Homo sapiens: one gene and its partners. The protein of the gene in region 1 purifies or fractionates together with the protein of each later gene. This does not show direct contact. Each region holds a gene or a part of one and is shown in the gene's direction. Other genes may lie near its edges. The genes, in order: FAF2, INTS7, ACAD9, VRK2, VPS13C, RPTOR and TRO.

Evidence for each region.
Region 2: the proteins of FAF2 (region 1) and INTS7 purify together in Homo sapiens (affinity purification with mass spectrometry; 3 studies listed by BioGRID and IntAct, with this or other methods). This does not show direct contact.
Region 3: the proteins of FAF2 (region 1) and ACAD9 purify together in Homo sapiens (affinity purification with mass spectrometry; 3 studies listed by BioGRID and IntAct, with this or other methods). This does not show direct contact.
Region 4: the proteins of FAF2 (region 1) and VRK2 purify together in Homo sapiens (affinity purification with mass spectrometry; 4 studies listed by BioGRID and IntAct, with this or other methods). This does not show direct contact.
Region 5: the proteins of FAF2 (region 1) and VPS13C purify together in Homo sapiens (affinity purification with mass spectrometry; 4 studies listed by BioGRID and IntAct, with this or other methods). This does not show direct contact.
Region 6: the proteins of FAF2 (region 1) and RPTOR purify together in Homo sapiens (affinity purification with mass spectrometry; 4 studies listed by BioGRID and IntAct, with this or other methods). This does not show direct contact.
Region 7: the proteins of FAF2 (region 1) and TRO purify together in Homo sapiens (affinity purification with mass spectrometry; 3 studies listed by BioGRID and IntAct, with this or other methods). This does not show direct contact.

Annotation. Positions count from the first base shown.
Region 1 is NC_000005.10:176,496,885-176,500,384, forward strand, and holds part of FAF2 (FAS-associated factor 2), read left to right. Parts: intron 1-2,029; coding exon 2,030-2,201; intron 2,202-3,118; coding exon 3,119-3,262; intron 3,263-3,500. UniProt on the Homo sapiens protein: Plays an important role in endoplasmic reticulum-associated degradation (ERAD) that mediates ubiquitin-dependent degradation of misfolded endoplasmic reticulum proteins.
Region 2 is NC_000001.11:211,979,811-211,984,052, reverse strand, and holds part of INTS7 (integrator complex subunit 7), read left to right. Parts: intron 1-1,242; coding exon 1,243-1,377; intron 1,378-2,862; coding exon 2,863-2,960; intron 2,961-4,242. UniProt on the Homo sapiens protein: Component of the integrator complex, a multiprotein complex that terminates RNA polymerase II (Pol II) transcription in the promoter-proximal region of genes.
Region 3 is NC_000003.12:128,896,137-128,900,378, forward strand, and holds part of ACAD9 (complex I assembly factor ACAD9, mitochondrial), read left to right. Parts: intron 1-299; coding exon 300-400; intron 401-1,495; coding exon 1,496-1,574; intron 1,575-3,150; coding exon 3,151-3,325; intron 3,326-4,242. UniProt on the Homo sapiens protein: As part of the MCIA complex, primarily participates in the assembly of the mitochondrial complex I and therefore plays a role in oxidative phosphorylation.
Region 4 is NC_000002.12:58,154,411-58,157,935, forward strand, and holds part of VRK2 (serine/threonine-protein kinase VRK2), read left to right. Parts: intron 1-343; coding exon of another isoform or gene 344-360; exon of another isoform or gene 361-392; intron 393-3,525. UniProt on the Homo sapiens protein: Serine/threonine kinase that regulates several signal transduction pathways.
Region 5 is NC_000015.10:61,917,028-61,921,269, reverse strand, and holds part of VPS13C (intermembrane lipid transfer protein VPS13C), read left to right. Parts: intron 1-622; coding exon 623-772; intron 773-938; coding exon 939-1,203; intron 1,204-1,820; coding exon 1,821-1,981; intron 1,982-2,485; coding exon of another isoform or gene 2,486-2,548; exon of another isoform or gene 2,549-2,906; intron 2,907-3,012; coding exon 3,013-3,134; intron 3,135-3,634; coding exon 3,635-3,929; intron 3,930-4,242. UniProt on the Homo sapiens protein: Mediates the transfer of lipids between membranes at organelle contact sites. Necessary for proper mitochondrial function and maintenance of mitochondrial transmembrane potential.
Region 6 is NC_000017.11:80,550,884-80,555,125, forward strand, and holds part of RPTOR (regulatory-associated protein of mTOR), read left to right. Parts: intron 1-4,242. UniProt on the Homo sapiens protein: Component of the mechanistic target of rapamycin complex 1 (mTORC1), an evolutionarily conserved central nutrient sensor that stimulates anabolic reactions and macromolecule biosynthesis to promote cellular biomass generation and growth.
Region 7 is NC_000023.11:54,923,581-54,927,822, forward strand, and holds part of TRO (trophinin), read left to right. Parts: coding exon 1-188; intron 189-870; coding exon 871-975; intron 976-1,089; coding exon 1,090-1,153; intron 1,154-1,408; coding exon 1,409-1,488; intron 1,489-2,011; coding exon 2,012-2,103; intron 2,104-2,829; coding exon 2,830-2,909; intron 2,910-3,002; coding exon 3,003-3,045; intron 3,046-3,462; coding exon 3,463-3,525; intron 3,526-3,724; exon of another isoform or gene 3,725-3,855; intron 3,856-4,086; coding exon 4,087-4,201; intron 4,202-4,242. UniProt on the Homo sapiens protein: Could be involved with bystin and tastin in a cell adhesion molecule complex that mediates an initial attachment of the blastocyst to uterine epithelial cells at the time of the embryo implantation. Directly responsible for homophilic cell adhesion.

The DNA of each region.
Region 1 (3,500 bases):
CAGTGGCTAACACCTGAAATCCTAGCACGTTAGGAGGCTGAGGCAGGAGGATTACTTGAATCCAGACTGGGCAGCAAAGCGAGACCCCATCTCTACAAAAAATAAGAAAAAATTAGCTAGGCATGGTGGTACATGCCTGTAGTCCCAGGTCCTTGGGAGCCCGAGGCAGGAGGATTGCTTGAGGCCAGGAGTTCGAGGCAGCAGTGAGCTCTGATTGTGCCTCTGCACTCCAGCCTGGATGACAGAGCAGGACTCTGTCTTTAAAAAATAATAAATGAATGAATAAACAAAGACAGGCCTCTGTGCTCAAGAATGTATATTGTGGCATTTAGAATAGCTGAATATAATATAAAGAACTTCGATGTAAAAAAAAAAGTGGAATGGTTATAATTCCTCTCCATTACATAAGTTATGTACATTAATTATAGGAAATCCTAAAACCACAAAAAAGCACAAGGAAGAAATTTAAGATCACTGATAAACCTACCACCACTTGAACATTGTTATAAATTTTTTTAATTTTATACACAACACACACCCCTATATACGTACACATTTATTTGTAAAATTGGGATAATACTTTTTTACAACCCTTCTTTATGTAAGAATATATCACGGCCTTTTCCCTCATCATTAAATATTCTGCCACATTTTAAAAATTACTGCATAACATTCCATTATCTAAATACATCATAATTTAACCAGGCCACTCTCGTTGGATTTTTAGATTATTTTCGGTTTGTTACTATTATAATTAGCATATAGGGAGATAATTTTTTGCAATTTGTGATGGTTTCCTTAGATTAAAATTTAAATTCCTGGAAGTGCAGTTTCTGGGTGAGACAATCAATATAAGTATATTTTAAGGCTCTTGATTTGTAATGCCAACTTGCCCTCAAGAAAGTTAAACAAACTTAAATTTTATGGAAAGTTTTTAATAACATGGGGACATGCTTGTTACATATTAGAAAAATGCAGAATCAGGCCGAGCATGTTGGCTCATACCTGTAATCCGAGCATTTCGGGAGGCTGAGGTAAGAAGATTGCTTGAACTCAGGAGTTTGAGGTCAGCCCGGGCAACATGGTGAAACCCCATCTCTACAAAAAATACAAAAATTAGCTAGGCGTGGTGGCACACGCCTGTAAGCTGAGGTGGCAGGATTGCTTTAGCCTAGGAGGTTGAGGCTGCAGTGAGTCATGATCGCACCACTGCACTCTAGCCTGGGTGACAGGCTAGCCCTGTCTCCAAAAAAAAAGAAAAATGCAAGATCAAAATCCTGTAAATAATAGCGTTATTTTAACTGTGTAAAAAAATGTATAGAACAGGAAACTTTCCGAGGTAACTGAAATGTTCTGTCTTGATTGGAGTGGTGATTACATGGTTACATTTATCAAAATTCATTGAATTGTACATTTAAGATCTGTGCATTTCACTGCATGTAAATTTTATCTTAATTTTTAAAGATAAAATCTGTTCAACTATTTTGATTGGCTAAATATTTTGGCTAAGAGAAAACAGAAATTTGTTGGAGAGAAAATAGGAGATATGCCAAATGTTATAATGTTTTATCTTTGATTAGTGATTCTCTGAATGACTCTGAAAACTCTACATTTTCAGATCTGCTACAATGTGTGTATGGATATATATGTGTGTGTTTTGGTTTTATGAGATCAGTACAAAAATGCAGTCACCCAAAATGGTATTTACTTGTAAAATATGATATTGATGATCCCTTCATAATAACAGTACTGTGTCACATTTGTTAGAATTAGGGGAAAAGTTTTATTTTAAAAGAGGAGAGGAAAGCTTGCTGTTTCCTTTTCTGCCAAATTAAACTGAGAAAAAAGGTGGCTTATTCAGATTCTGCCACGCTCTGCTTTTGGAATCCCTTATGGCAGTGTGAAATCGTCATCTGCTAAGAATATCAACATTTTTACACACACACACACACAGAAGATTTCAATATAAGAAAACACAGAACTTTGTGAGAGTGCTGTTTTTCTTCTCTTGCTTTTGATCTATTCACAGGGAAGAAAGAAACCAGACCCAAGTGCTGAGACAACAGCAGGATGAGGCCTACCTGGCCTCTCTCAGAGCTGACCAGGAGAAAGAAAGAAAGAAACGGGAGGAGCGGGAGCGTAAGCGGCGGAAGGAGGAGGAGGTGCAACAGCAAAAGTTGGCAGAGGAGAGACGGCGGCAGGTAATGGACGTGTGGCTTTACTCCCTGTGGTTCCCAAACTGCCGAGACTTTGCCATCTTGGTCTTAAGTGTGAAAGGAAAAAATGATAGCCACCTTAAACAGACTAAGAGGGAAAAAAAAAAAGGAAAAAGGAAAGAAAAAATTACAACATGTTGGAATTAGGGGTGATTTAAATTTTTCATACCATTTAAATATTCATTCTTTTTTAAATAAAAATTTAAAAAAAGAGACGGGCTTTGCCATATTGGCCAGGCTGCTCTCGAACTCCTGACCTCACATGATCTGCCTGTCTTGGCCTTCCAAAGTGTTGGGATTACAGGCGTGAGCCACCATGCCTGGCCCTAAATATTCATTCTTAATACCAGTATTAGCTGATTTGGCATTTTACTCATTATCTTTTTGTTTTTGTTTTGTTTTGTTTTGTTGTTGTTTTTGTTCCCTAGCAATCAGACTGAGATATACATTATCTTATTTGATTATGTATTACCGCTTACCTATAACCAGTGTCTTTTAGTCATTTCCTTTTATTTCTTTTTTTTTTTTAAGAGACAGGGTCTCACTGTGTTGCCCAGGCTGGCGTGCAGTGGCTATTCACCAGTGCAATCATGGAGCACTACACCCTGAAACTCTTGGGCTTAAGAAGTCCTGCTGTGGCCTCTGAAGTAGCTGGAACTACAGGCACATACCATGGCACCCTGCTCCCTTTCTCCTTTTTCTCAAATAAATACCTAGACATAATAAAGAATACATGAGATGCAATTGTACTTTAAATTTAGGTTGTTTTTGACTATTCCTGAGAGGTTTTTCTTAGAATACTTAGTCATTAATTTTTCTTCTGACGACTGCGTAATAAAGCTACATGGTCATTGTATTTATTTCTTGAGCTGTAGCCTCACCTTTGCTTTGTGTCTCTGCAGAATTTACAGGAGGAAAAGGAAAGGAAGTTGGAATGCCTGCCCCCTGAACCTTCCCCTGATGACCCTGAAAGTGTCAAGATCATCTTCAAATTACCTAATGATTCTCGAGTAGAGAGACGATTCCACTTTTCACAGTCTCTAACAGTAAGGACCACCTAAGTTCTGTGAAGTGTATGTAGCATCTGGGCTATAGATTTGGAGCTTTTACTGACTCTTGAGAGTGGTGTTGGTGTATCTGCTGCTCTGATGAACAGGGAACAGAGAGAGAGAGAGAGAGATGGGTATGCCATCCGTGGACACCAGGAAGAGTACCGAGGACTGCTGTAGGCTCCTTCAGTTCTAGTTTCCAACTCAAAGCAATTTTTAAGTTTTTGTTTAATTA
Region 2 (4,242 bases), on another chromosome or scaffold:
TCTACAAAAAAAAATAACAAAATTAGCCAGGTATGGTGGCATGCACCTGTATTCTCAGCTACTTGGAAGCTGAGGTGGGAGGATCGCTGGAGTCCTGGAGTTTGAGACTATAGTGAGCTGTGATCTGTAGTAGGCCATGATCGCACCACTGCACTCCAGCCTGGGCAACAGAGTGAGACTCTGTCTCAAAAAAAAAACAAAACAAAACAAACAAAAACCCAAAAAACACTGAGGCTCTCTCTTAAACTTGTATTATATTAAACCAGAAATCAACAAAGTGACCATAGGTCCCATGTCACCACAGATATTCATGGTTTATGTCTATTGTAATTCTTAGTAGCGTCTCTTTCAGCCTCAAAAAATACGGTCACCCTTGGTATGAGAAACAAAGTTGAAGTTGACGAGAATCATGGAAAAATAAGCAGAGGAAAAGAAGACAGGAATGGGAGACTCTTTTAAGTAGTTGAACAAGCCCTAATCTCCTTGTTTTCTTGAAGCTTATTCAGTTATAACTGAGGGCTTCTCTACTGTAAATTACAATAGTTACAACATGAACCTTGCATTCCAGAATTTCAAATGTGAATTTTAAAAATTGCTGCAATCTATAGCATGGAATTTAAGGTATAAAGCAGAAGAGTATAATAACAGGGGCATTAGAACATGACTGATAAGTTTTATGAACTTAATGGCAAGATTCTTAAAATTTTGGGGCTTTGGGCTTTGATTCCACCTGTAAAAATAGGGTGTGTTAAATCAGATGATCCCAAAATTCTTTCCAGCTCTACAATCACGAATTCATATGAGGTATAAATGTGTGTCAGCAATCTGAGATGGAAAAAAAAAGCAAATTTAAATTTTTTTCTCTTTTCTCTCCTATCTTGAAAGTATGGTTTTGTCTGACAAGAGGCCTATAATGATACCTGTTTTAATCAGAATTCATTTGAACTCTTAGGATAGTTGTTTTGGCTTTTGTACTGTTAGTCAATTTTTATTAATATTTTTTAAGAAATTATACGTTGATTTTAGATCTTAGTCATTACGAAACTGTTGGCACATACCTATTTCAAGTACCTTAATGGAGAGAAATGCTGATATGTATTGATAGTGGGATTGTGGTAGGAAATTTTGTTGAAGTTTATTGTTAGAGACTTTTCTCAAAAATTAAGAAAATTGAACCTATGAGCTGAACTGCTTTTGAACTATTTGAATTACAATTTCTACTACTTTTCTCTGCTTTTTTAGGAAATGTGAGTTCTTCTCCCAGATCTTCTGATTTAGTCAAATTAGCCCAAGAGTGCTGTTACCATAATAACAGGGGCATTGCAGCTCATGGAGTTAGAGTCCTAACTAATATAACTGTTTCTTGTCAAGAAAAGGGTAAGTTTGATCAGGACTGATATTACGTATAAACTTTGGTTTAGACCTTGGACAGAATTCTGTTTGATTTTTTTTTAATCCCTTATTTTTAGCCTGTGTGCCTTGATCTACAAATTGACTCCTTTCAAAGTGTTCTTAGAGCATGTGTTCTTAAGACTACTTTATCCTTGTGAAAAATAATAAAGAGATGAAGACCTTGGGAGTGGAATTGAAAGGTTTTATGGAGCATTGCCCATTTCCTTCCACTGCTTACCTTTGCATATATGGTGCATATATGGTGGATAAAGATTGCTTAGGACTCTACCCCTTTTGTATAAGGTGGTATGTTCACTTATACAAAAACCTAGAAAATTTACTTAGGTTCTCCAGGGACTTAAATAACAAATAGTTTCACCTAGAGGCAAGTGAATTCACAGACCAATGTGAATTAAATTTTCACAGAATTTACTCTAGGTATATGTGGCATTAAACTGACTTGCATAATCAAGGAGGACATGCAAGGAAAATAATGCACATATTTTGTTGTCTACCTAACATCTTTTGACTTGTGTTCAAGAACAAGAAATGCATTTTGGATATTCCATCTGTTTCAGTGCTGATTTTGATCTTCATTAAGGATTACAAGCTCAGTGGTTCCTCTTATCCCCCCTAGCCTTCAGCACTGCTTGTTCCTAGTACCTGTTTTTTTCTAGCAACCTGACCTTCACTAGCCTTTACTCTGTTTGCCAAGCTCCTGCACTCAGGAAACATTTCTTAAAGTTGAAAGTTGATTCTGATTTGGATAATTAAGCCTGTTTTATATTGGCATCACAAAGAGTATTTTCTTCCATGTAACACAGAAAACTGCTGTATGTTCTCAACACTGAAATATATTAACCTAAAGGTAACTAATATATTCAGAACTTTCTAAAACCTTCAGAGAAATTTTAACCCTATGGTAGTGAAAAGATGTTCTAGTGCTGCTATTTCATGAGACATCTAAGAGGTTCATTCTTTATGGTCAGACTTAAAACAGTAATAAGGTTATGTGGAGACCTTATTATTTCCTAAAAGTGGTTCAGCTTTCATTAGAAGCTGAAAACTGTTATATCTTAGGTAAAAATGGACCTGCATAATTTATTTCTGATTAGGGAGATTAACACATACTGCATAGTTTGCTGTTCTTAGTATTTTCCTTAGCTAAGCTGGTGACACTATTTCAGTTTTGCTTTATTTATAGCTTTGTGGCTTTAGCTCTTGATTTAATGTGTATATTTTTATAAATACTTCAATAAAGTGGTAGAAATAAAGTCTGAAGATAGACTTTACATTCTAGAAGTAATGCCACATGTACTTTTTCAAGGAAGGTTAGGTTCATCCATTTAATAATTCCCTATATCTTAAACTCCTTAATGTTTTTTCTAAGAGAGTGTGTATGCATGTATATGTGTGTGTGTTTGTACACACATCACTTGACCATCATAAAGTTTACTGTTTTTCTTCTAGATCTTTTGGCACTGGAACAAGATGCTGTCTTTGGCCTGGAATCCCTACTGGTACTTTGTAGTCAAGATGATAGTCCAGGTGCTCAGGCCACTTTAAAGGTGAAAACTTTTATTTATTAAGTTGTAATAGATATATATGATGGTCTTAGGCAATAGAAAGCAAAGTTAAGCAGACATAGCTCCTGTACTCTTAGAAGTTTTAATCTAAGTGATTAAATCTAACTGATAAAACTACACTGATTTAATCTAACTGATAAAACCACAAAAAAACTGATGACATGACTGCAGCCGACTCATAAATGTTCATTAATTTAACATAAGCGTTCATTAATTTCCCAGTGGTATAAGCCCTAGTTTATAAGCCAAGGGAAGAATATTTTAAGGAATTTTCACCTTCACTTAGTTACAGAAATCATCTTAGAGATATGCAAGATTTTTAAAATGTGAAATGAGGCCAGGACAGTGGCTCTCATGCCTATAATCCCAGCATTTTGGGGCGGTCAAGGTGGAAGGATTGCATGAGCCTAGGAGTTCAAGACCAGCCTGGGCAGCATACTGAGACCCCATCTCTAGAAAAATTTTTTAAAATTTAGCTGGACATATTGGGGCACACCTATAGTCCTAGCTACTCATGAGGCTGAGGTGAGAGGATTGCTTGAGGCCGAGAGGTTGAGGCTGCAGGGAGCCATTATTGCACCACTGTTCTCTACCCTATGTGAAAGAATGAGACCCTGTCTCAAAAAAAATAAATAAATAAAATGTGAAATGAAACTACTCTTTTTGGAGTGAAACGTGAAATATAATTTGTGATGGTGCAAAATTAATGAGGAGAAGCATAGTTAATAGAAGTAAGAAACTGTTAGATAAACATTGGCGTTAGCTTGTCTAAGGTGTGGTTTCAAGGAAGTCATGGCTCATTTTAGCAGGTTAAGGAAAGTTGTGATATGGTCATAGTGATGAACAATAAAGATAGTAACATCATTAAGTGACAGCTAATAAGAAGTAGAGAAGGGAAGTAGACAACATGTGTTTGGCAACACATTCTGAGGGGGATCCTCAGAATCCCCTTGGAACCACAGTACATTTAAGACTTTTTTTAAAAGCAAATCTTTTTTCCAACAATTGTGGGTGTCAGTAAAATGCTGGATTCAGCACAGTGGGACATACATAGATGGCCAAGAAAGGTTCCTGTAATAGAGGAGCTTCCCATCTAGAATAGGCTACTGATGTTTATATAGGGGACTATAATACCAAGCGGAACACAATACATTCTCTGATATTTCACAAAAAAAGTGCAGTTCTAATGAGAGGTCAGAGTCGGGAGTGATTAACTTTAACCAAGGGTATTAGGGAAGACTTTAAATAAATGTCATATGAGTTG
Region 3 (4,242 bases), on another chromosome or scaffold:
AAAGGGATATCCTTTGCCCAAGACCACTAGTCTGGGAAATGAAGGAACTGATATGAAAGTTTTGGACACAGACTGCAAAGCACTGTGGGTTGCACAGGCTCACGGCACTGGCATGTGCGCCCTGACCGTCTCCTCAGCAGCTTGGCTCCCTGGGCTCTGCCTGTGGCCGCTTGCTCTGAGTTCTTGCTGTCTTCTCTTGCCCGAAGTAAATATTTGCCTCAGAAAGGAAATGTTTCACAAACACCTCATGCTCTCCTTTCTCCCCACAGCTGACATTAGTCTGTGTCTGTTTTGTTTAGGGGATCATCTTGGCTGGCACTGAGGAGCAGAAAGCCAAATACTTGCCTAAACTGGCGTCCGGGGAGCACATTGCAGCCTTCTGCCTCACGGAGCCAGCCAGGTCTGTCTCTGCACAAAACGTTATCCCTCAGCAGCTGTGATGTTGCCCAAGATTCACTGGGGCAAGGGGCTGTTGGTTTTGTTGAGTAGCTGACTTTTCCTTCTTTCCAAAATCTTGCAAAGAATCAACTCAGCAACTGTTCTTGCCATTCCTCTTATCTTGACCTTATTTCTCTGTCCCAGTGAGACTTGCAAGTGAGATACCACGCTTGACAGCACTTATTAAATAAATTTTTGTGGTTTACAACACACCTTGACATACAATATAGTAATAACGTTCCGGCTTCAAAGCACCTTTCAGAATATATAGCGTGGGTGGTACTGCTCCCACTTACACATTAGGAGCTGAGGTTCAGTGAGGCTGTGTGATCTGCTGGATGGAGCAGGGCTGCGGCAGCACTCGGGACTCTGATGATAAGTCCATCACCTGGACCATCCTCCATCCTGCTTCACTTTGCATGAGAACCTGGGAACAGTCATCCTTCCTGGGGTGCCCAGAACTCATCCTCACAGGACCTCAGATGAGCCCATTGCAAGCACCCATTTCCATGTTTAAACCTAAGCCCAAGTTGTTTTCACTGCCGCTTTTTTACGTGATGTATTGAAGCAGAGGTCGGCTAAATCCAGCCTCCTGCCTGTTTTTTATAAATAAGTTTTGTTTGTTTGTTTTTGAGACAGGGTCTTGCTGCGTCACCCAGGCTGGAGTGCAGTGGCTCAATCTCATCTCACTGCAACCTCCGCCTTCAAGCGATTCTTCTGCCTCAGCCTCCCGAGTAGCTGGGACTACAGGCATGCCCCACCACACCCAGCTAATTTTTGTATTTTTAGTAGAGACGGGGTTTCACCATGTTGGCCAGATCTCAATCTCTTGACCTCGTGAACCACCTGCCTCAGCCTCATGTTCTATTAATAGCAGCAGAGTTGAGGAGGTGAGACAGACATCCTGCAGCTTGGAAAGCTGAATATGTTATCTGACCCTTCATTTTAAAAGTTTGCTGACCTCTTACAAGTACTAAAACCTCCATTTTCAGGCCCTCAAAAGCATTCATATTTATTCCCAGTATTCTCCCTTGACCACATCTTTCTGCATCTGCAGTGGGAGCGATGCAGCCTCAATCCGGAGCAGAGCCACACTAAGTGAAGACAAGAAGCACTACATCCTCAATGGCTCCAAGGTAGGGTTCCTTCCCCATGGCCACATTAGGGTCTCAGTCACAACCTTCACTGCCACTGAGTGAGCACTCTCCACACACCAGGGATTGTACCTGCTGCTGTAGCACCGACTACCTTCTTGAGCTGCTTTTATGTGTTTGTTTTTAATTTTTTTTAGTTTTTTTTATTTGCGATGGAGTCTCTGTCACCCAGGCTGGAGTGCAGTGGTGTAATCTCAGCTCACTGAAACTTCTGCCTCCCAGGTTTCCAATGATTCTCCTGCCTTAGCCTCCTGGGTAGCTGGGATTAGAGGTGCGTGTCACCACTCCTGGCTAATTTTTGTATTTTCAGTAGAGATGGAGTTTCACCATGTTGTCCAGTCAGGTCTTGAACTCCTGACCTCAAGTGATCTGCCCACCTCGGCCTCCCAAAGTGCTGAGTTTACAGGCAATGAGCCACTGTGCCCGGCTTGTAAACCCAAAAAATCTTTAAATTTTTTGTTACACAAAGTTTCAGACATATTCTGTGTGCCTGGCTGGCCCTAACTCCGGCAGTCACCTGCTTATGGCCACTGTGCCTCTTCCAGCAGCATCGCCACCTCCAGATCGCATGGTAACAATCTCAGCATGCCTCTCTAAAAGACAGGAGTTTTTTTTGTTTGTTTTTGTTTTTTAATAAACACAAAGCCGTAATACCCTTATCACATTTTAAAAATTGATAATTTCTCTTTTCTTTTGAGACAGGGTCCCGCTCTGTCACCCAGGCTGGAGTGCAGTGGCACGATCTTGGCTCACTGCAGCCTCAACTTCCTGGGCTCAGGTGATTCTCCTACCTCAACCTCCCAAGCAGCTGGGAGTACAGGCACACAGCTAACTCTTTGTATTTTTTTTTTGGTAGAGATGGGTTTTCACCGTGTTGCCCAGGTTGGTCTCAAACTCCGGGGCTCAAGTGGTCTGCCCACCTCGGCCTCCCAAAGTGCTGGGATTACAGGCGTGAGCCACTGTGCCCAGCTAATAATTTCTTACTTCTATCAGCATTCAAATATCCCTGATTGCCTCATACCTTTTTTTGGTTTAACTGTTTGCTTGAATTAAGATCCACACAAGTCCCATCTGTTGCTGTTTGTTAAGGAGTCTGTTTCTGCCTCTGTCTCCCTCTGTTTCCTTTCCTCCTCCTCACCACCCTCCCGCCTTTTTTCATTTCTTTGTAGAATTAACAAATAAATGTTGTGTGTATTTACATCTACAACATGATGTTTTTATATATGTATACCTTAAGAAATGATTAAACCCTTTCTTTCTTGAAGAAATGCAGTTGTCTGGCGGTGGAGCCTGAGCTGTCTGACAACTTTGGGTGTTCTTTCCCCCGCCCCCGCCTCCACCTGGCCATCCATGTCCCTTGGGAAAATCCTTGCTCTGGGGAAAGTGGGCTGAGCCCTGTCCTCTATTCACTCATGCTTGGTTGGCTTCTGCAGAGCCAAGGACCCTGCATGTCTGGCCTGAGGTCTGACTGGCAGCTGGAGCTTGATGGACAAAGACAGAGCTGAGGTGGGTCACATAGGGGTTTGGTTTTCTCCAAAGTCCATCTTTCTGTCCTCAGGTCTGGATTACTAATGGAGGACTGGCCAATATTTTTACTGTGTTTGCAAAGACTGAGGTCGTTGATTCTGATGGATCAGTGAAAGACAAAATCACAGCATTCATAGTAGAAAGAGACTTTGGTGGAGTCACTAATGGGAAACCCGAAGATAAATTAGGCATTCGGGGCTCCAACAGTAAGTAGCTCCTGTGCGCGCGTGCGCGTGTGTGTGTGTAAGGGGGAGACTGGCCTTTGACGGTGTGTGTGTGTGTGTGTGTGTGTGTGTGTGTGTGTGTGTAAGGGGGAGACTGGCCCTTGACTCTGTCCAAATAGCAAGATAAAATGAGATTTAAACACTTTCAGTTTTTGTTAAGCATTTTAAAAAGATCAAATTAAGAATGCCACTTGGGCTTTGTCTTTGTTCCTGCAGCTGAGTGCTGCTCACTTGAAGGCCTGCTGGTCATCCCCTGCTGTAGCTGCCCTAGCAGACACACCACCTTAGAGCTCAGCTTACAGTCCCCAGCCTTTAGTTGTCTCAGTCTGCAGTGCCTGGCAGCCTGCTTCAGGCTGTGAGTTGGGTTCAGGTCCATCTGGGTTCAGGTCCATCTGGAGGCTTGTTCTTAGAGCAGATCATAAGCACCTAAGGGGCCAAGCCAAGCCATATAAGTACTATTTTTGCCGTGGGAGACATAGTCTCCCTCTGTCACCCAGCCTGGAATGCAGTGCTGTGATCTCAGCTCACTGCAACCTCTGCCTCCTGGGTTCGAGTGATTCTCCTGTCTCAGCCTCCCAAGTAATTGGGACTACAGGCGTGCACCACCACACCTGGCTAATTTTTGTATTTTTTGTAGAGATGGGGTTTCAACATGTTGCCCAGACTTGTCTTGAACTCCTGAGCTCAGGCAGTCTACCTGCCTCAGCCTCCCAAAGTGCTAGGATTACACGTGTGAGTTACCATACCTGGCCACTTTTTTTTGGTTTGTTTTTTTTGAGACGGAGTCTCGCTCTGTCGCCCAGGCTGGAGTGCAGTGGCACTATCTTGGCTCACTGCAAGCTCCGCCTCCCGGGTTCACGCCATTCTCCTGCCTCAGCCTCCCGAATAGCTGGGACTAC
Region 4 (3,525 bases), on another chromosome or scaffold:
TGGGATGTTTAACTCACACTAATTAACAAATCCATCATGTCACATACTTGTCATTTCTTTTTATAATTTCTTGGGGTGCAAACAGATTATTAAATTGGGACTTTTTGTCTTTTCTAGTACAAATATTTAGTATTATAAATTTCCCTTCTAGCATGACATTAGCTATGTCCCATGTTTTGATATGTTGTATTTTTATTTCCATTCGGTTCAATGTATTTTTTAATTTTCCTGGGGTCTCTTTGACCCATTTAAAGGGGTCTTTAAATTTTAAAGCATTTGGAGATTTTCCTATTATTTCTTTCCTTCATCTTGATCTTGGTGTATTTTCTTCCCTTTTTTCCAGTTTAGGTAGAAGCTTAGGCTATTGATTTGAACCCACTATTTTTTCTAATGTAAGTATTCCATGCTATAAGTGTCCTGCTAAACCCTGTTTGTACTGCATCCTGTAAATATTTATACATTTCAATTTTGTTCACTTCAAAATATATTTCCCCTTGAGACTTTTAATACCTTATTTAGAAATGTGTTAATTCCCAAGTATCTGAAGATTTTTTTTTCAGTTATTGATTTCTAGTTTAATTATATTATGGTCTAACAATATAAATTTGTTAGGGTTTGTTTTATGGATAGGATATGACGGTCTGCCTGGTTGAATGTTCCAGTTGCAGTTGAAAAGAACATGTATTTTCCTGTTTGGGGGTGAAGTAGTCTATAAATATCAGCTAGATCCCATTATCTTGTGATGTTACTGATTTATTTTATATTCCTGCTGATTTTCACTCTAGTAGTTATATCAATTACTGAGAACAGAGCTTTCTAGTTAGGGAGATGTGCGATGCCAACTCTTTGCTGTTTAATGCACAGCAGGCACGGTCAAAAGGGCAAGTGCCTCTCCAGTTTCTGAGGCCAGAGTGGAGGGTTGCTGTTGCTCTGATGTTTGCTCAGTGCAAGGTGGAGAAGGTTGGTAGCTCTCTACTACGGTCTCTACAGTGTCTGGTGGGGAGGAAGACAGGTACCACATCTGCTTGTGTTAGTGCAGGGAGGAACAGGCTATATGGCTCTGCCTTACAGTTTTGGTAGTCTCCTGGTGGGAAGGAAGGGGGACCACCTCAGTAGTACAGGCTGGGAAAGGTTGTCAGAGCTCTATCTCACAATTTCCCTAACACCCAGTGGGATAGGGTATCACCTTGTTAGTGTGAGGACGGTCAACAGGGCTCTACCTGTCTCCACAGTGCTTGATGGGGGAAGGGTAGGTGTGCTCCCTGGTTAGTGTAGGGTGATGATACTCAACAGGACTGTACCCTCCCTCTTCACCCCACCCTTGCCACCTCCCCACCGCCCCCACCATCCCCCCCACCCCGCCGCCCCGTTTCCACAGCACCTGGAGAGAAGTAAGGTACAGCTTCTTTCATGGTGTTCACCTAGGGTTCAGCAGGTATAAAAAGATTCTGTCCTGTAGACCTGTCCTCCCCCAGGGCTATTGGTTACATAGAGCATGTTTTTCATGTTTGTTTTTTTTTTTTTCCAGTCTGTGCATATTGCTGTTTCCAGAACGCAGGCTCTTTTATGGCCCAGGCTGGGGTAATAGGAGGTACTAAAGTACATGGCGGGTGGAGACTCAAGGGAGGGTCATTTTTAGAATTTTCAGTGTTTTGATAGGTGCTTTTTGTCCACTCTTTAATTACCAGAATAAGGTGGGATGCTTACTCTTTCTTGTCTATAACTGGATGCCCCTCACTTTGATTTTGAAAGCTTCATTGAATATGGAATCTATTCTTTCAGAACTTTAAAAAGGATGTTTCCATCTTCATAGGTCTGTTTTTTTTTCTGCTAAGAAGTTAGCAGTTATTCTTATTGGCCCATTTATAATGTATTTCTTTCTGTGGCTTTCAAGATTTGCTTGTTATTTTTGGTTTTGTAAGGATGGCTGTCTTTTGTTTATTGTGCTTTGGGTTCGTAGAGCTGCTTTTATCTGTGGGTTGATATTTGTCTTCAAATTGGAAAGGTTTTGTATGATTTCATCAATTTGTTTCATGCCTTAATCTCTCTTATTTCTCTGAGTTCCAAATACATGCATGTTAGAATACTTTACCTTTTTCATAGGCAGCTAAATAACTATTTTTTTAAATCAGTCTTTTATGTTGCTGTACCTCAGGTTGGGTGGTGGTGTTTTTTTTGTTTTGTTTTGTTTTGTTTTGTTTTGTTTTTGCCTGACCTCTAGTTGATTGTCAAATCAGCTGTTAAACCTAGCCAATGAATTTTTCATGTTATACCCTGTATTTTTCAGTTCCACAAGTATATTTCTTTGTATGTTGAGATTCCACCTCCCCCATATCTGTTCATTAATTATGTTCAACTTTAATTCCTTGAACATATTTATGTAGATGTTTTATAGTCCTTGTTTGATAATTGTACCATCTGGATCAGCCCTGAATCTCTGTTAATTTTTTCTCCTGGTTATGGGTCACATTTCCTGCATCTCATTTGTAGTAGTTTTATTGTATACTGAACATTGTGGATGCTGTGGTCTTTAGACTCCAGATTTTATTGCATTCCTTTAAAGAGTTTTGAGGTTAGTTCTGGCAGACAGTTAACTTACTGGTGACTAAACCTGATCATTTTATAAGTTCTGTTCAGGCTTTTTTGGCCTAGTCTGCAGTAAATCTTAAATTGTGGCCTTTCTTAGGTCTGTGTTATTTTCCCTTCCTGAGCTTTGTTTTAGATCCCTAAGTTATTTCACATATTTTGACTAATTTTGTTTTCTATTATTTATTTATGGGTTTTCACAGCAGAAGGGGAAGTCTGGTATCAGATTTTCATGGCCAGAGTGGAAGTAGTGTTGCTATTTTTCATAGCTTCCCAGTCGATTCTGATGTGCATTCAAAGTTAATAACTATTCTAATGTAGGGTTTCTTGACAGCTGCACTGTTGACATTTGGGAGCTGAGCTGTTATTTGTTGTGGGGGTGCTGTCCTGTGATGTAGGATGTTTCGCATCATTCCTAGTACTTATCTACTAGGTGTCAATAGTATCTCCTCCTAGCTGTAACAACCCAAAATGTCTCCAGAAATTGCTAAATGTCCTCTGTGGGGCAGGATCAACCCAGGCTGAGAACCAATGCTCTATCACAGTAGATTATTGCATTGCCTTGAGCCCTTTGCTACTCAAAGTGGGGTGTGCAGACCAGCTGTATTGGCATCATCTGGAGCTTCTCAGAAATACAGAATCTCAGGTCATACTCCTAGACCTTTTGAATGAGATCTGCATTTTAACAAGTTATGATGATCTGTTTGCTTTCTAATACTCGAAGAATAATGCCGTAGAGCAGGGGTCAGCAAACCTTTTCTTAAAAGGCCAGAAAGAAAATATTTTCAGTTTACTTTCCATACAGTTTTTGTCAGAACTATTCAACAATGCCATTGTAGTGCAAAAGCCCACATAGACAATACATAAACAAATTGATGTGGCTCTGTTCCAATAAAACTTTATTCACAAAACAGGCAACTAGCCAAGCCAAATTTTGGC
Region 5 (4,242 bases), on another chromosome or scaffold:
CCACATATTCTTTTGTTAAAGATGAGTCACTTAACCTGTGTTCCAATTTCCTCTCAATAAAGAAGTAATATTTTTCTGACCTGCCTTTCTCTGGCATAGGGAGGCTAACAAAGAATGTTTTACAAGGCTTTTGAAATACTACTAGAACAGAAGCTGATGGAATCTGATGGCTAGTTAAGTGTTTATTATATTAATATTACTTATTTGAAGGTGTTATTGGTTTAAAAAATAGAAGGAGAGAAACATTTCCAGGTGGCACCTCTAATAGGGATCAGTTTAGACTTCAGGGTCCTCTTAGATTGCTCGTCAACACATAATCACCAGTTGGGTGACACTGAATAAATAGCTATGCTCTGAGGAATGCATAAGAGACAAATATTGTAGCTGGCTTTGAGTAATTTCATGGCGTAATTCTAAACTTTTCCCCATGCTTGGACTATACCCTGAAAGAATGAATGCTGAACTCCATGAAATCAAAGTGAAGCATGGTATATTTTTGAAAATAAGACTTTTGCGAAGCATTACTATAAAGTGATCAGTTTAGGAGAACTGAACTCCAGCATTTTTATTTTATTATCAACTGGCTAATAATTTAAATTTGCTGTGTTATTTTTCTTCATAGGTAAAGAAGAACCCAGTTCAGGATAAAAGTTTGCTGCCAGGAGATGATTTTATTCCTGAGCCACAAATGGCAATTCATATTTCTTCAGGAAATACAATGAATATAACAATATCCAAAAGTTGTCTTAATGTTTTCAACAATTTAGCAAAAGTATGTCTGAATCTTGCTTAGAATATTTCAAGTGGAATTTTAAAATGAAACATATAATTTTTTTGTCATCAAAATTAGTTTCCAAAAAATGTGTAATTATGGTATAGGTTTTGGGAAGAATGTATGTTTTTCAAAAATTTTACTGTGATGATATGTTCCTTTTCAGGGTTTTTCAGAGGGCACTGCTTCTACTTTTGACTACTCTTTAAAGGACAGAGCTCCTTTTACGGTAAAAAATGCTGTAGGTGTTCCCATTAAGGTGAAGCCCAATTGTAATCTCAGAGTAATGGGCTTCCCTGAGAAAAGTGATATTTTTGATGTTGATGCTGGCCAGAATTTGGAACTGGAGTATGCCAGCATGGTACCTTCAAGTCAAGGGAACCTATCTATATTGAGCCGTCAAGAAAGCTCCTTCTTCACTCTGACCATTGGTAGGCTATATTTGTTTTCCTTAAGGGTATCTTAGCAGTTGTTGGTGTGGGCTTATTTTTGATAAAATGTGAAAAAACATTTTGCTGCAGATATCTGGAGATACAACATTTGAAACATATAATTGCTAACCTCTTGTTTCTTGTTTTCTAAACTTGAGAAAATTAAACTTTATTGATTTAAGAAAACTTTACAAAACTAGATTATTTTTGTGCCCTTAAATAATGTATATATTATATAATATATATAAATATTATATATATAATGTGTTTTTAAAAGGATAGGAGTTTACTGAGGAGAGAAAATAGCTATATTCAGAAGTCTTACAGTGTTGACACTGTGACAAAGAAAAAGATTGTTGCTATATGATTGAGAGAATAAGAAATAAGTTGGATTTTGTTTTTATATTCAAAACCCCAAGCAAAACTGTTTTCAGCCAAAAATTTTATAACAGTAACTGGTCTTCTTTTTAAGTTTATGTCTTAGAAAAGCAATTTGTGGTGATCATTTCTAGTGATGAGGAAAAATACTCTTCATTATTTTGAGGTACTAATGATTGTTATAGAGAAACATTGGCAAATTAATATTTGGAATTCTTTTCACTTATGCACTGCCTTAGTACCTCATGGATATACAGAAGTTGCAAATATCCCTGTGGCCAGACCTGGACGGCGATTGTATAATGTACGGAATCCCAATGCCAGTCATTCTGACTCTGTCTTGGTACAAATTGATGCAACTGAAGGGAATAAAGTAATTACCCTTCGCTCTCCTCTACAGGTAATACTTCAAAGTTAATTGTATCCCTTTCAGTGTACCAAGAAATGGTTAAATCATTTAGCTGAATATAGGAATACAGTAAAACTTCATCAGGTCAATTCTGATTATTCAGAAATAAATAGTAATTATTCAGAAATAAATAGTAACAGAAATGGCTTCTATTTACTGTCCAGCTTGCTCTGATAATATTTATTTTAAATGTCTGTAGTTTTGTTTACTTAAAGCTCATTTTTGTTTTCTGTCTTTTAAGACAAATGCAAAATTAATAAAGCTCTTTTGGTATATTCCTTTAAATATTCAGAACCGAGGATTATTGTAATTGTAGTTAGGAAACATTCCATTCTCTTTGTATGTCACTTGGATTATATTTTTCAAGATATGTATGAAGGCATATTGGAATGATCTATCCCTCTGAAAAACATTTTAGCATCTTAATCTGTGTAAATATTTTTTCTACTTTTAAGGTTTTATCCAACATTTTTCTTTTTCTGTGTATTACTACAGGTTTCAGCATATGGTCAACAAAAGAACATTTTTTTTCCTACCTGTAACATCAGATACAAATGAAAAGGTTTCAAATTTTGGACATTGTTATCTTATAGTTTGTTATTTGCTCCAATGCGTAACAGACTGATGTCAAGAAAAGAATTGTACTATTTTTCTCATGATTTTTTGCTATCCATTTCTGTTTAGTTGTTATACATGATACATTGAGAAAAGATTGTCATGGAGAAAAAATGGCTTAAATCTTCAGAGAATAATACATATTTGAAAGATAATATAGACTAATACTAAACATAAGCTTATAATATATGGAGCATTTGAATATCTCAGTTTTCAACTGACACTTAAACATTAAATTTAATATATATAGCACTTAAATACCCTAAAATTTTTCAATTGCCAATAAAAATATCTTCCAATACTGAGTTTGAAATTTTTTAGATCTAAAAGTATTTGTTTGTGGCTCTCATTTTTTCTTTCGAACTTACATATCTTTTAAAAAACTTGTATTTTTTTTTGTCCAACAGATCAAAAACCATTTCTCCATTGCATTTATCATCTATAAATTTGTTAAGAATGTTAAGCTATTGGAGCGCATTGGGATAGCCAGACCTGAAGAGGAGTTCCATGTTCCTTTAGATTCATATAGGTAGATACTTCTTAAATGTATTAAACTTTAAATGTATTGAGTTGGGGATTTATATTCTGGCAAATAACTTCATATTTTTATTAACTAAAGATCAGTAAAAGCCAGTTTTAAGACATAATTTAGTCTTCCATTGAGAAATACATTTATATTATCATTGAATTTATCAGGTGAAAATTCCTGACTGTATATTTGATGTCAGGATTTTTCTGACTATTTTTATTAGATTGCCTTTGTATTTGAAATGAAAATTTTTTTAAGTTGTCTTGTTTACAGAGTTGTTTTTTGTTTGTTTGTTCTTTTCAGAAAGTCCTCCGTAAGTTAGCTATGTGATTTTGGGTGAATTTCCTAACCTTTTTTTTAGCCCTGGTTTCCTCATCTGTATATCTGTAAAAACAGGAATAATAGCACCTATCTTGTAGAGTTGTCAGGAAGATTTAATGAGATGCTTTTTTTTAAGTTGTGGATCAAAACTTTATTGTCACTGTTTCCTCTTTCTGCAGATGTCAATTGTTTATCCAGCCAGCTGGAATCTTAGAGCATCAGTACAAAGAATCTACCACTTATATTTCCTGGAAGGAAGAACTTCATAGGAGCAGGGAAGTCAGATGCATGTTGCAGTGTCCATCAGTAGAAGTCAGCTTCTTACCTCTCATAGTGAATACAGTTGCTCTGCCTGATGAATTGAGCTACATATGTACACATGGGGAAGACTGGGATGTAGCTTACATTATTCATCTTTATCCTTCTCTCACTTTGCGGAATCTTCTCCCATATTCCCTAAGATATTTACTTGAGGTATGTCTCTTGCATTTTGTTTGATTTTTGTTGTTGCACAGAGTAAATTCTGATTTTGTTTTATGGTATTTTTAAGTGAGGTCAGTGTTTTATATAGCGTATGTGTAATGTGTAATGCCTTCATAATGTTAATGATAGCAAAAACTGGCATAACATTTACTATGTGCCAGGAACTGCTCTGTGTGCTTTACATGTATTAGCCTATTTACTCTTTATAATAACCTCCTGATGTAGGTACTATTATCAGGCCCATTTTACACATAAGAAAACTGAGTTGAAAATGGGTTAAGTGACTGGCTCAAGGTCCCATAGC
Region 6 (4,242 bases), on another chromosome or scaffold:
AGAGGGATCTTTTATTTATTTTGAAATGGAGTCTCTCCTTGTTTCTCAGGCTGGAGTGCAATGGCGTGATCTCGGCTCACTGCAACCTCCACCTCCCGAGTTCAAGAGATTCTCGTGCCTCAGTCTCCCGAGTAGCTGGGACTACCAGTGCATGACACCATGCCCGGCTGATTTTTTGTATTTTTAGTAGAGATGCGGTTTCACCATGTTGGCCAGGCTGGTCTTGAACTCCTGAGCTCAAGTGATCCTCCCACCTCAGCCTCCCAGAGTGCTGGATTACAGGCGTGAGCCATCACACCTGGCCAGAGGGATTTTTTGAAAGTGTGAAGGGGTGGGTTGCCCCTCCACACCTGTGGGTGTTTCTTGTTAGGTGGGACGAGAGACTTGGAAAAGAAAAAGAAACAGAGACAAAGTATAGAGAGAGAAATAAGGGGACCCAGGGAACCAGCGTTCAGCATATGGAGGATCCCGCCAGCCTCAGAGTTCCCTTAGTATTTATTGATCATTCGTGGGTGTTTCTCCGAGAGGGGGATGTGTCAGGGTCACAAGACAATAGTGGGGAGAGGGTCAGCAGACAAACACGTGAACAAGGGTCTTTGCATCATAGACAAGGTAAAGGATTAAGTGCTGTGCTTTTAGATATGCATACACATAAATATCTCAATGCTTTACAAAGCAGTATTGCTGCCCGCATGTCCCACCTCCAGCCCTAAGGCAGTTTTTCCCTATCTCAGTAGATGGAACGTACAATCGGGTTTTATACCGAGACATTCCATTGCCCAGGGACGGGCAGGAGACAGATGCCTTCCTCTTGTCTCAACTGCAAGAGGCATGCCTTCCTCTTCTACTAATCCTCCTCAGCACAGACCCTTTACGGGTGTCGGGCTGGGGGACGGTCAGGTCTTTCCCTTCCCACGAGGCCATATTTCAGACTATCACATGGGGAGAAACCTTGGACAATACCTGGCTTTCCTAGGCAGAGGTCCCTGTGGCCTTCCGCAGTGTTTGTGTCCCTGGGTACTTGAGATTAGGGAGTGATGATGACTCTTAAGGAGCATGCTGCCTTCAAGCATCTGTTTAACAAAGCACATCTTGCACCGCCCTTAATCCATTTAACCCTGAGTTTGACACAGCACATGTTTCAGAGAGCACGGGGTTGGGGGTAAGGTCATAGATTAACAGAATCTCAAGGCAGAAGAATTTGTCTTAGTACAGAATAAAATGGAGTCTCCTATGTCTACTTCTTTCTATACAGACACAGTAACAATCTGATCTCTCTTGCTTTTCCCCACAAAAGTGTGAATCAGATTCTGTTACTTCCTTACTGGTGGTCTCCATTGGCTTCCTCTGTGCTTAAAGTAGAACTCAGACTCCTCTTGCTGGTTCACAAAGCCTTCATGATTTGGCCTCTGCCTGCCTTTTCTGCTTCTTGGATAGAAACTCCTGGAATGCTTTTCTCTCTGATCTTTGCACACCTGGCCCCTTCTCGTCGTTCATACTTAGCATCTAGGTCCCTTCCTCAGAGAGGCCCACCATCACCCCATCTGAAGCAGCCACCCTGTCACTCATAAACCCTCCTGATGGCTATTTATTTCTCTGATATTTTTCTCCCTACTTCCTCCTGGAGATGTGAGCTTTTCATCATAAAGCAAGGACCTAGTCTAGTCTATGCTAGTCCATAGGGCAGTGCTTGGCACATAGTAGGGATTCAACAAAACTATACTGATACAAAATGGATAGTTTACAAAAGGCTTCCACATACATTATCTTTAAGGCTCAACAGCACCATAAATTACCTAGGGATCATTCTCTCCGTGTTACTGATGAGGTAACTGACGTTTTAGTTGAATGGCTTACCTAAAGTTACATAAGTAACATGGCTAGCAGTGAGAGGAAGTGGAACCTGTGCAGAGGGAGAAACAAAGTTTAGTTCAAAACAAAACAAAACAAAACTGTATCATAATGTCTCCACTGAAACATTTATGTTAAGAGGTCAGGGGGTTGAAAATAGCAGACCAGCAGACCAACATTCAGCAGACAGAGAAGGATGCTCAGTCTGCTCACAGCATGTGCCCTGTGCACTGGGGCTTCTCCTAGACCCTTGCAGGGATCCACAAGGTCAAAACTGTTTTCATAATAATGGAACACCATTGGCCTTTTCCACTCTGTTGATACCTGCACTGACAGTGCAAAAGTGATGAATCAAGACAGCGGTGCCAAGCTGTACTACTAGTTCCTGATTTCTTTGCCATGCACATGGAGAGAATGTCCTTGCTAATAAAGCAGTGAAAATGATGACTTTTACTAAATCTTGACTGTTAAGCACACATCTTTTTCAGACTGTGTGTGCTGCTCCTTCTCCTGCAGGCAAAGCCCAGTGGCTGCCTGGAGGAGGAGCATCTGCTGCCTTCATGGACGCAGCACGTCCCAAAGGAATCACCGACAGGCCGCCTCTGGATGTTGAGGCCTGTGTCCACGGCAGACGTGTTTTTGAAAATGAACTTAGTGAGCTGTCACTTCAAGGAATACAGCTGACAGTATTTGCTGCCAGTCATGAAATTTGAACCTTCAAGTGAAAATTGGTTTTGGAAAACTTGTATCTGCCGCTGTGAGCCTGGCAGCTTCCCAAGACTTAAAGATGTTTCTGGTGAGATCCATAGTGATATTAATGAATGGAATTAATGTTGTAGAATGAAATGTGCCCACATTTGGAACAGCTGCATAATTCAGTGAACAAATATTTCCAGATGACCAATCCATGATATTATAAAATCATCCATAGGTAAAAGATCCGTTCAATGTTAGACCAGTGGATTTTAATGTAATAGGGTACAAAAAGTTCACCAGAGGATAGGTGTTTTTTTTTCTTTTTTTTTAAGACGGAATCTTGCTCTGTTGCCCAGGTTGGAGTGCAGTGGCGCGATCTCGGCTCACTGCAACCTCCGCCTCCCAGGTTCAAGCAATTCTCCTGCCTCAGCCTCCTGAGTAGTTGGGATTACATGTGCCTGCTACCACGCCTGGCTAATTTTCATATTTTTAGTAGAGATGGGGTTTTGCCATATTGGCCAGGCTGGTCTCGAACTCCTGACTTCAGGTGATCCACCTGCCTTGGCCTCCTAAAGTGCTGGGATTACAGGGGTCAGCCACCACACCCCGCTTGATGTTCTGTTGTGTGCGTGTGTGTATATTTTTTGTTGTTATTTGTTTGTTTCACAGTTCACTGCATCCTTGACCTGGGCTCAAGTGATCCTCCTGCCTCAGCCTCCTGAGTCGCTGGGACTACAGGTGTGAGTCACCATGCCTAGATTTTTTTTTTGGATTTTTTGTAGGGATGGGGTCTCACTATGTTGCCTATAGTGAGAGTTTAAATATTTTATTCAAATAGATTGCAACAGATCTTTAAGAAACTACCACTTACTCAATTTTGTTGTAATATCAAATAATAATATTCTCAATTATTTGGATATTCTGATACTCCTGCCATTATGTATCTTTGTGAGGCCAGATTTTTCTCACATACTTCAACCAAAACAGTGTATTTCAACCCATTGAATGTGGCACCAAAAATGAGAATCCAAGGTGGGGTGCGGTGGCTCACACCTGTAATCCCAGCACTTTGGGAGACTGAGGCGGGCAGATCATGAGGTCAGGAGATCAAGACCATCCTGGCTAACACGATGAAACCCCATCTCTACTAAAAAATACCAAAAATTAGCCGGGCGAGGTGACGGGCGCCTGTAGTCCCAGCTACTTGGGAGGCTGAGGCAGGAGAATGGCGTGAACCCGGGAGGCAGAGCTTGCAGTGAGCTGAGATTGCGCCACTGCACTCCAGCCTGGGTGACAGAGTGAGACTCTGTCTCAAAACAAAACAAAACAAAACAAAACAAACAACAACAACAACAAAAAAAATGAGAATCCAGTTGTCTTCTATGAAGCTGGATATTAAAGAGATTTGCAAAAATCTAAAAAAAGCCACCTGAGACAAGTGACAAGATAACTGACAATTTTTGAAAATATAGTTATTTGTAGAAATGTTATTTATTTGAATATATAATAAGTTTGATTTTTAAGTGAATTCATAAATATATCAATTATGTTTTTCTGTTTTAACCTTCAATACGGAAAATGTTGATAAATGAAACTCATAAAAAAGCTCTTTGAGGGTCTTCAGGAACCTTTAAGACCGTAAAGGGGCCCTGCTGCCAGATGTTTGAGAGTTATTAGTGTAGTTAGAAGAAAGTG
Region 7 (4,242 bases), on another chromosome or scaffold:
CTCGGGCAACTGAAAGCCAGACTCCAAATGCTGACCAAGGGGCCCAGGCCAAGATAGCCTCTGCTCAGACCAACGTAAGTGCCCTTGAGACTCAGGTTGCTGCTGCTGTCCAGGCCCTGGCAGATGACTATCTGGCTCAGTTGAGCCTGGAGCCCACAACCAGGACCCGGGGCAAAAGAAACCGAAAGGTGAGATCTCTGACATTGCCATCCTTAACTTTGTGCTTCTTTTCCATTTCTACCCTTCTAGTTTGTTCATTTCTTCTATAAAAGTTTTACTTTGAGCTAGTCCCTGTGTTCAGATAGGCTGTGGAAGATGCTGAGAAGAAGGTGATATAGTTTCTGCTCCCTAGCAGTTCACAGATTGGTGAGGAAATAAGACATCCATACACTCAGCTACAACCTGTATGTAATACTACTTGTATTTAAATAGTAGTTACCACGTGCCAGGCTTTGTGTTGGGTACAGTTACACAGGGTATGTCTGAATGTCTTGAAAGTAACTCTTACCAACAAGGGATCATAGGTCCCAGTTTTACACTTAAGAAAACTGAGTCTCAGAGAAATGAAGTGACTTGTCCAAGAGGTACCAGCCAGCATAATTGGTGGTAGCCAGAGGAAGAGAAAGACCCTTAGGCTCTTATCTTGAGTTGTTCCTGGCCTGGCAGAGGAACGAAACTCCTTCCTGGAAGACAGTGAAAGATAAGCTCAGGACTCAGGGTGGCCAATGGCAAGGTCAGGATCAGGCTCCACTACAGCAAGGCTGAGGGAGGGGGTTAGAGGGACTTTCTGTCTGGAGCAGGCAAGGTGAGGAGACAGAGCCATCTCTTTCACCTGGTGACTCTGGACCTTCCTTCTTTCTGATGATGAAGTCCAAGCATCTGAATGGGGATGAGAGAAGTGGCAGTAATTACAGGCGGATCCCATGGGGCCGGAGGCCTGCACCACCGCGAGATGTGGCCATTTTACAAGAAAGGGTAAGAATCCAATGCTGTCCAGTCTCTTCTCTTCTTCACTTGCCCTCTTCTCTGCCTCCTTCCAAGTTTTCTGCAAGCATGTTAAGATCTCTCCATCTATTCCTCTCCTCCCAGGCTAATAAGTTGGTGAAATACCTGTTGGTTAAGGACCAGACAAAGATCCCCATCAAACGCTCAGGTAGTGTCCTACCAACCCTCCTCCTTGAGCTCTCCTCTCCACTCCCCTCTCCTCCCATAGTCTGGGAGTAACACTTTATGGCCTCTTTGTTCTGTCATATCTCCACACCTGCCCTCCTTGCACTCTGCCATGGCTGGCATCTCCCATTAACTCACTTCAGGTCTCTGATTGCACTGACCCAACAGGACTGGCAAAAGGGCTGCAGCTCTGTGGCCCCTGCTAAGCTCAGCTACTCTCACCTCTCCTTTTCTACAGACATGCTGAGGGATGTCATCCAAGAATATGATGAATATTTCCCAGAAATCATTGAACGAGCAAGCTACACTCTGGAGAAGGTGAAGGGGCAGTGCTGGCGGATGGGCGCAATGGGGAAGCTTTGAATCGAGCAAAGACATACATGTCCCTTTTGGAGAGAATCACAGAAACATGCTAATCCAGCCCCATTACTGTGTGAATGGGCAGACAGTGGCCTAGGGAGAGGTGTAGATTTGCCATGGGTCACACAGCATGTCAGTGATGAAAACATGGCTAGGACAGAAGCCACTCAAATTAGTCTCAGCTTCTATTCATAGTTGGACATATTCTGCATGTATTTCAGATCTCACCTCTCCCTTGTATCCCCATTTTCTGTCTCCCTAGATTCCTGCTCATCACAAAGATGATGTTGATGACAATAGTACATTTGCTGTGTGTTTACTGGGTGCCAGGCACTTGGCTATGTGCTTTATGTGCATTATCTCACTGACTTCTTACACATGCAGACCCCCTAAGTACACTGGGAGTTTTAGGATGCCCGGAAAGTTCACTGATACCTAAGCTGAATTTTGTGATCTCACAGGCTATTCTTTTACTTGGCAGATGTTTCGAGTCAATCTGAAAGAAATTGATAAGCAAAGTAGCTTGTATATTCTCATCAGCACTCAGGAATCCTCTGCAGGCATACTGGGAACGTAAGCTGGGAAAGGGCTGGAGTGGGAAGGAAGCTTCTGCTTTTATCTGTGCTGCTACCCCTTCTTTGTCCTACTTCCCCCATCCTCTTAGAGAGTCAGGAAAAACAGGGTCTCAAAAGCCCTGTCTCAGCACCTGCACATAGTTGGAGCCCTGCTCACAGTAGTGGCACCTGATTATGATTGACTGAAGGGTATAGGAGCCTAGGGTGGGACATTCCTGCTGTCAGGTTTGCTGTCTCTGTAGAAGCTTCCCAGGAAAGCAGGCCTGTCATTGCTTGCCTCTTCCGATGGAGTGCCTGGCCTGGCTTTGACAGAGTGGTTCTCAAGGAGGGCTTCCTGGTGTGGCTGGATCAGTATGCATGAAGCGCAAGAGTGTCAGTGGGGCTGAAGGTTCTGGGAGAGAAAGAAGGGACTCACATTGACTGAGTGCTTGTGTTGTACCAGGTTGACAGCCATTCTTCCATCTTCTTGGCAACCTGAGGAAGGGAGAATATGATTTTCCCATTTTACTGAATAATAGACCAAGGCTTGCAAGGTCTAAGTGCCTTGCCCAGGGTGGCATAGAGCTGGAAGCAGAGACTGGGCAGAATTCTGTATCTGAGGAATCTGGGAGAGGTTAGCCTGGTGAGCTGGCTGGTGTATCTTTTGCGGATGGCTGCTGAAACATAAACCTTCTTTCTGTCCTGTTGAAACATAAACCTTCTTTCTGTCCTGTTATTCCCTTAGGACCAAGGACACACCCAAGCTGGGTCTCCTCATGGTGATTCTGAGTGTCATTTTTATGAATGGCAACAAGGCCAGTGAGGGTGAGTGGCTGGGCATGCAGCTGAATGGGCGGCCATGGTCTGGATTCCATGTGTTCAATTTCTGTCCCTGTCTCCTCTTGCCTCCCCTCACAGCTGTCATCTGGGAGGTGCTGCGCAAGTTGGGGCTGCGCCCTGGGTATGACTGGGCTCTCTCAGCGCTTGCTGTCCGTGTTGTCCTTTGGCAAGAGAGGATGGTCCTAGGATTGCATCAGTCTGGTGGTCTGGTGGAGCGGGTGGGGTGCTGGACTGGGTAGAGGGCCCAGGGTTCTGACCTGGGTGGATGACGGGCAAATGGTCCTGAACTCTCTGCTGTCTCTCTCCTTAATGTCCTCTGTCTGTTCTAAGCTGAGATGTTAGATAGACCTTCAGGGATCCCTGACAAAGAGGCATCTGGTCTTAACTGCTTGCTTCTAGTGGCCATGTGCTCATTACTTTCTTCACTTCATTGAGACTGCCCCATGTGCTAGAGAGGTCTCTTCCATGTTGGGAAATGCCTCTGCCCTCATCTGGGCAGTTCTGATCTGTGTTCATGGGTTATTTTTCCCATTGTCAGGGTGAGGCATTCACTCTTTGGGGAAGTGAGGAAGCTCATCACAGACGAGTTTGTGAAGCAGAAGTAAGTGGTGTTTGGGGCTTTGTCTGGCCCTGAAGTGTTCTGGGTATACTGATCTGGTTCAGAAAGTGCTTAGTCAGTGCCTTTCTTATACTAGCTTTAGAGGGATGGGCATCCTGTGTCCTAGAACTGATACTGTCTAAAATTCCCATGGGCAGACCTTTCCAGGACTGGGCCAGACTCAACACAAGGCCCTTGCAGTGGGGTGCGCTCAGAGCAGAGGGCCTTAAGAATGGCTCCTCTGTTTACAACACACCCAACAGGAATCTGGGCTTACTCCTCACAGGTGGCATGATACTTTGGCCTTCCTGTGACATCATGCCCTATACATGTCTCCCCTGGAGAAGCCCAAGGGACTGCTTTGCACAGGGCCAGTGGGAAATGGCTCAGTATTGGAGGCCAAGACCATAAACTGTGTTTGGTAGTGAGTCTGGGGCTGGAGGGTCTTAGAAATCCCTCTCCAGGGGCTGTTTGTATTTGTTTGGAGGAGGTTGCCACCTGGTGTCTAGTGCTTAGACAGCAGGGTTGCTTGGTTAGAAACAAGTTTCATTTCCTTTTTCCAAGGTACCTGGAGTACAAGAGGGTCCCTAACAGCAGACCACCTGAATATGAGTTCTTCTGGGGCTTGCGCTCCTACCACGAGACTAGCAAGATGAAAGTCCTCAAGTTTGCATGCAGGGTAAGAGGAGAGCTGCCCGAGCTTGGCATATTAAGGCAATG